Linked DNA regions of Homo sapiens. The protein of the gene in region 2 purifies or fractionates together with the protein of the main gene of each other region. This does not show direct contact. Each region holds a gene or a part of one and is shown on either strand. Other genes may lie near its edges.

What was found.
Region 1: the proteins of AKR1C1 (region 2) and ZC3HC1 purify together in Homo sapiens (co-immunoprecipitation; one large-scale study listed by IntAct). This does not show direct contact.

Annotation. Positions count from the first base shown.
Region 1 is NC_000007.14:130,020,171-130,023,997, forward strand, and holds part of ZC3HC1 (zinc finger C3HC-type protein 1), read right to left. Parts: intron 3,554-3,827; coding exon 3,341-3,553; intron 2,356-3,340; coding exon 2,149-2,355; intron 1-2,148. UniProt on the Homo sapiens protein: Required for proper positioning of a substantial amount of TPR at the nuclear basket (NB) through interaction with TPR.
Region 2 is NC_000010.11:4,973,377-4,977,203, reverse strand, and holds part of AKR1C1 (aldo-keto reductase family 1 member C1), read right to left. Parts: intron 1,354-3,827; coding exon 1,271-1,353; intron 1-1,270. UniProt on the Homo sapiens protein: Cytosolic aldo-keto reductase that catalyzes the NADH and NADPH-dependent reduction of ketosteroids to hydroxysteroids.

The DNA.
Region 1 (3,827 bases), on a different chromosome or scaffold from region 2:
GGAGGAAAAAGTTTGAACTCTTACTAATGACTGAGGGAAATTTAGTTAATAGAGTGACAAAGTTGAAAGAAACCTGAGTTGAAAAAATAGTATACACTTTTTTCTTTTTTTTTTTTTTTTGAAAGGGAGTCTCACTCTGTTGCCCACGCTGGAGTGTAGTAGTGCGATCTCGGCTCACTGCAACCTCCACCTCCCAATTCTCCTGCCTCAGCCTCTGGAGTACTGGGATTACAGGTGCACACCAACAGTCCTGGCTAATTTTTGTATTTTCAGTAGAGATGGGGTTTTGCCATGTTGGCCACGCTGGTCTCGAACTCCTGACCTCAGGTGATTCCCCTGCGTCAGCGTCCCAAAGTGCTGGGATCACAGGCATGAGCCACTGTGCCTGGCCTCGGTATATACTTTTTTTTTTCGAACATCAGGATCCTTTACCACACAGTCTCATTAAGCTTTCTAGCTTCGTCACAGCAGCTGTCAGAAGGTTAAGACACACTACCGAAAAAAAAAGTCCTGGAATCCAGGGCCAATTATGAGGCCAACTTTTCCCACTACAAAACAAAAACAAAACCCATAGGCTTTCTTTTTCGTATGGCAGTGACAGAGAGGAGTCTTACTGAAAACTGCCAATGTACTAGTTCCTGAAGATCTAGGCAGAGAAATGCGGATTTTTTTTTCTGTGAAAACTTGGAAAACCTTCACCTGCATATTTACTAAGGGTACTAATATACATTTATTTTTATTTTATTTTTTTTTGAGACAGCGTCTCTCTCTGAAGCCCAGGCTGGAGCGCAACCTCGGCTCACTGCAACCTCCGCCTCCTGGGTTCAAGTGATTCTCCAGCCTCAGCCTCCCCAATAGCTGGGATTACAGGCGCCTGCCACCACACATGGCAAATTTTTTTTTTTTTTGTATTTTGAGTAGAGACGAGGTTTCACCATGTTGGCTAGGTTGTCTCAAACTCTTGACCTCAGGTGATCCATTCGCCTTGGCCTCCCAAAGTGCTAGGATTACAGGCGTGAGCCACCACACCCAGCCATGCAATTTTGGACTTTTAGCATTACTATAGTTCCCTCCAGTGGAATCCTGTAACCCTAGAAAACCATGAATCTAGGAGTGCTGCTCATAAATATCTGCTGACAAGTATTATTTTACTTTGTCCTTGAAAGTTATAGACTACGATCAGAAATTGTTACCAGCTACAAGGAAAATTTGGGAGTGAGCCAGCGAAGGAGAGAACCCAGTTTTCATGGTTCCATATTACCCAGCCTATCACTTCCAATCTTTACACAGAGCAAACACTTGACTTTTCTTCTCAGTTGTCACCCACATTTGTAACCCACAGCAGTTATGGCTGCAATGGCTAGCAGAGTCACAGTCTGGGCTGTGGAACAGAGTAAAGTAATGTGCCCAGCGTGCGGAATGAGGCCATCATCTTGGTGTCAGAGCCCAGTGCTCCAAACAGCTAAGTTAACTGGCCAGGCTCCAAGTGCAAGTGACAGCAAATGAAAGAAAAAGCAGCTGTCTGCAACATGAGGCCGGAGCAGCTGCCTGTTCATCTATTTCTGTTTCCGTACTCCTTTTCTACTTGGAGTCACTTTATTTAGGAGAACAAAAGAATTTATCAGAACTTGACGGAATGCCATATGCTAAACTACAGAAAGACGAACCGGTTCTATGCCTAATCCCTAGGACGAAAGCAGAATGAGTCTAACTTGACGTATAAGCCGGGCACGGTGGCTCACGCCTGTAATCCCAGCACTTTGGGAGGCCGAGGCGGGGGGATCACCTGAGGTCAGGAGTTCGAGACCAGCCTGGCCAACATGGTGAAACCCTGTCTATTAAAAATACAAAATTAGCCGGGTGTGGTGGTGGGCGCCTGTAATCCTAGCTACTTGGGAAGCTAAGGCAGGAGAATCGCTTGACCCAGGAGGCGGAGGTTGCAGTGAGCTGAGATCGTGCCATTGGACTCCAGCCTAGGCAACAAGAACGAGACTCCATCTCAAAAAACAAACAAACAAACAAAAAAACCCAAATAACTTGACGTATGAAAGCTGAAGGCAGGCGGGGTGCTAATTATAGGCCCAGCCTCTGCTCCACCTCCCATAAACAGCAAGTGCTGCCCACACACAAGGCAGTGGCGTATCTCACCATGGAGTCCGTTTCAGCTGGCTGGCTAGACTGTTTGTGCGCCAAGAGGATGGTCAGCACTGCTTTCCAGCCTGGCTCTGCTGGGGCGCTGGCATCTGGTTCAGTTCCACCATTCTCCCTGCTTTCTTTGCCAAGTGTGATATTCACCCAAGGGCACCAGTCTCTATGCTGAGAGGTGGGATCAAAGAAGCTTCGGGAAGATGTGTCCTGAGGAAGGAGAAAAAGAAATAGCATTCATAGGTAGATGCTATGTAAGTTCAGGGAGGCACTGCTGTTAGTTATCAAGTCCAGAATCTCACAACTACCCATACTTCGAGTGTTTATGCTCTCCTTCAAACTTTGCCTACACATTTTCCTCTCATTTTCTTTATTTTTTCACTCCTTTTGTGTTAAACAAACTATACCTTATCACAAGGGATAAGGGATACCCAACCCCCAGGCCATGGATGGGTACCAGGTCGCACAGTAGGAGGTGAACAGCAGGCGGGCAAGCAAAGCTTCATCTGAATTTACAGCTGCTCCCCATTGTTTGCATTACCACCTGAGCTCTGCCTCCTGTCAGATCAGCAGTGGCATTAGATTCTTATAGGAGCAGGAACCCTACTGTGAACTGCACATGAGAGGGATCTAGACTTCGGGCTCCTTATGAGAGTCTGACACCTCATGATCTGTCACTGTTTCCCGTCACCCCCAGATGAGATCATCTAGTTGCAGGAAAACAAGCTGCAGGTTCCCACTGACTCTATATTATGGTGAGTTGTACAATTATTTCATTATATATTACAATATAATAATAATAGAAATAAAGTACACAATACATGTAATGTGCTCGTATCATCCCGAAACCATCCTCCCAACCGTGGTCCGTGGAAAAATGGTCTTCCATGAAAACGGTCCCTGGTGCCAAAAAGGTTGGGGACCGCTGCCAGATCAGGTTTGTCCCTGTATCACACCGTTGTTCCATTTGCCTGAAATATCTATTATTTCTCCAGAATCCACTCCAAAGGAACAAAAAGGAGCAAAAAACATGACTGACATTTTTTCCCTTTGGTCATCCAACTTTAAATTTATTCACATGGTCTACTTTTTGCATTGGACCACGGAAGGGCTCCTGCCTGCTTCTCCATGCTGCCTAGGGAGGGCCCAATATGCTGTTTATGCTCAGCCACTGCTACATGCGAGGTGGACTCACCGAACTGCTGGAGGAGCAGAGGCGAGCTCGCTTGGCTTTCCGCAGAGGGCTAGATGGTACCTCCAGGCCAGGGGTGTCTCCTGTTCCCATGCTTCGGGTCACTGGGCGAGTTCTGGTGGTGGGGCTAGCAGCCTCTGGCTCAGGACGGTCAACAGGACTGGAAGAGTCCCAGCTCCGAGTTCGAGAGACAATGGGACCAGGGCTCTTTTCAGCCTGAAGGAAAGGGGAGATAATGGAAGTACACGAATGATATTAATGATTATGGTCAGAAATACTTCTTTCTTTAATCTTTTTTCTTTTTTTTTTTGAGACAGAGTCTCGCTTTGTTGCCAAGGCTGGAGAGCAGTGAGGCGATCTTGGCTCATGGCAACCTCTGCCTCCCGAGTTCAAGTGATTCTCCTGCTTCAGCCTCCCAAGTAGCTGGGATTACAGGTGCCTGCCACCACACCTGGCTAATTTTTGCATTTTTGGTAGAGACGGGGTTTCA
Region 2 (3,827 bases):
TGTTTTTGATATAGGGTCCAATATCCAAAGAGCTACAATGTATAAACCATTTTATAGGCAGAAATAACACAAAATGTAAAGACACAGATAAATGACTGCTCACATGTACAATTACAACTTATTAATTAGGGAATTGAGCCTATCCTTTTTGATTACACCAAGAGCAAACACTTGGAAGCTCGCAAGTGGTTTACTCCAGACCATATTTGAGTTCTACAAAATAACACTAGTGATTGATTTCATGATCCCCAAAAACATTAATTGGTTTTAAAACTTTCTAATGCTTGCCACTTTTCCTTTTCTTTTTATCATCTCCGTTTTCATTTTGTATTTTCCTCTAAATGAATAAAATACTACTAATAATATCCACCAAATTTTGGGTACTTATGATGTACCATTGTGCTTGTTTTTTTCACACATTATCTCATCATCTCTATTACTTGTTGAAATCCCTACTGCCAGCAGTTACATAACTTCTTTTTTCCCTCATTATATGAATGACCTTCTATGAATCCTAGAACCTTAGAACACAGAGGAATAGTAAACTTCTGTTATTGGTTATAAATTATCTCCAACAATGGTGCTTTTGCATCTACACTCTGCATTTGATTTTAACATTTCTTCATTCTCTGCACTGAGATCTCCATATTGCAGAACACCAAGGCCAAGTGCTCCTATTCGCTTCACTAAGACAGACTTTCTGGAGGCAAATGCAGTGTTTGGCTCATGGGCAAACATGCAAAGACAGGCACGAAAAAGGTTTGAAATGATTAAAAATGCTAAATCGACAGGATCCAGCAAGCAATTCCATGTGAAAGAGGTGGGAATTGGAACCTGGCCCACAAGATTGACGGAACTGCCTTTGATCTGGTAAGACATTGAGCAGGTTGGGAAGAACAAGATAGAAGCACAGATTTGGAAACATCTAATGCGACCACATGGGCAATATCCACAGTGTGTACACTAGACAGTAGCACAAACAGCAGGCCTACATGGAAGGTGCAGATTCAGCAATGATCTTGGCTGCTCTGGAAAGTTCCTTGGAGTCACGAGAGCAGAGGCACAGGTTGACCCATGCTGACCCCAGGCCACTCTCCCTGCCAGAGAACAGAGCTCTGGAGTGAATCCAGGAGGAGACTTCCAGAAAGCTCCTGTCTCACCTCTGTCTCACGTTGGCCTCTGTGCCCCTGGTGTGGAGGTCACTCTCAACACCCATCCTACGTTCCTCCTCTGAAAATAAATTAGGACAACCATCTCCAAAATTACTTACATATCAAGGGTCAAATATCGCACATTTCTGTTTAGGCCATCTATGGCTTTCATCTCCTCTGAAGTCAACTGGAATTCAAACACCTATCAAAGTAATAGAAAACTTTAATTATTTTTAGATTACATCATTGCCAATTGGGAACAACCAAGTTCATCAGACAGTAGGGTGCAGAGACAATACTTAAAAGATTGATACGTTTCCAAAATTTATGAAAGACCTCTCTAAACACCCAAGTGGTCAATGAAAACCAGTCAAAAATAAGCAGAAATCCATTCCCAGATAAAATATTTTGAAACTGCACAACACTGCAGATGAAGAGAATATCTCAGAGGAAGCTGAAGAAGAAACAGAGCTTACTTTGTGCCCACATGATAGGGTCATGTACCTAGAAGACCCACAAGAATCTAGAGGCAAATTTTGTAATGTCTAGCATAATTTAGTAGGTTTGATGAATAACATTGAATATCTATCTCTCCAATGAACAGGTATAATAGGAAAAATTAGTTTTCAACATCACTCAAGCCAATAATTGTCTAAATACTAACGATTTCACATTCAAAAGGTGTGGGTACTCTCACTATGTAAATTTGGGAGACTCTAAATATCAAAAAGATGTCACTCTTTCTAATACATTCAATCAAATAAGTGTATAAATCCATAGGGAAACTGAAGGAGTAATACAGAAAATGAGAGAAAGAGAGTAAAAAATGACAGCAATGTAACACTTGATGAATGTAGGTAAGAAGATTTGTTGCATTATTCTTTTAATATTTCTATATATTAGAAAATCCATAAAACAAAAATGAAAAGTTATCAAAAACTATTAAAATCATCAGTAACAGAGAAAGTTATGAAATTAATTATATATTTATTAAAAGGCTATTAATAAGTGGGAAATTCATATTATGATCATGCATTGGAAATCTCAATATTGTCAAACATTTAGTTCTCTCCACATTGATCTGGAGGCTTATTACAATGTCAACAAGAGACTAAACATTTATTTGCTTGTGGAAGTTAATAAGATGATTCAAAGTTTTAAATAACACATTAGTCAAGAATAGCTAAGATATTATTAAATAAATGAAGAAGTTAGAAAAATATTTGTACCATACTGGAAGTGAAACTTACTTTTTAACATCATAGTACAGAAAAGTAAATAAGTTAACTGAAGATGGAAGAGAGGCCAGATAATTGCTCATGGACATTTCATATATGTTACAGGTAAAAAAATCAAGTTATGTGAGCAAATATGAACTTTTCAATAAATGTTGGTGGGAAATTTTGCTAAAAATTCAAAAATTAGATATGCATATTTGGATCCTTATCTCATACAGTATTTAAAAAGTCAATCCCATTAGAATTAACCAAATTTATAAGGAAAGAATATTAACAATTTTGTAAGATAACACAGTAATATATTGTGATATTCCCAATATAGGATAAGACACAACACTCACCAACCACAAGAAAGAGGCATGAAAAATTAGTCTACATGAAGGATAGAAACTTTTGTTTGTGAAAACATAACCACAGAGAATATGACAACACAGGTAAAATTTGGGAGATGTTATTTCAAGAATACATTTAAGTCTCTAAAGAATTAATATCCAGAATAAATACATATATATGTATGGTTTCTAGTTAATCTAACATATATATTATATAACACATATGTCATATATCTATATATACTAGATGAATTAGAGAACATACACATATGTATAAATACTGATAATTTCCACAGTTATTTCATAATATTTCCTTTTAGTTTTGTGGGTTTTCTAATGTCTAAAAATATTTTTAAAATAATATAGTAAATGCCATTACCTAGATTCATCAATTGTTTCATTGTCATTTTTTACTTTCTTTCTCATTCTCTGTATCATTATTTCAGAGTATCCTATGGATTTCTACACTGATTTTACTTAATGTTTTAGCAAATAGTGACACATATACATATACATGATATATGTCATATATGTGACATAGGTTTTATAATATATATCATATATGATATTTCATATATCTGTATATAACTAATTAGAAAACATATATATGCATGTATTCTGGATATTAATTCTTTAGAGACTTGGATGTATTCTTAAGAATATATGAAATAGTATATCAATTTATATATATTCATATTCATACATATAACTATTAATATGTTATTTCACACATATCGTATAAATGATAGATTAATTAGGAACATGCCCTCTAACAATCACATGTCCCTGTATCCACTTGCTTGGTTATATGAATTTCCAGCTCCTTCCAACAAGAGGTGGTGTCTTTTTCCCCACCCCTTGAGTCTGACCTGTCCTGTAACTTGCATTAGGTGATAGAATTTCCCAGAAGCAATGGTTGGCAGCTCTGAGCCTAGACCTGAAAAGGCTTTGCACATGTCCACTCACTGCCTTGGGGTCATGCCCTGTGCTGAGGTGAACCCTGGGCTGGATGGCTGGAGGATAAAGAACTGCATGGGAGAGGGGGGCGCTCACACAGATGCCCCAGGGACATCCTGAAGCAGAGCTGCCTCACTGCCCTGAACACA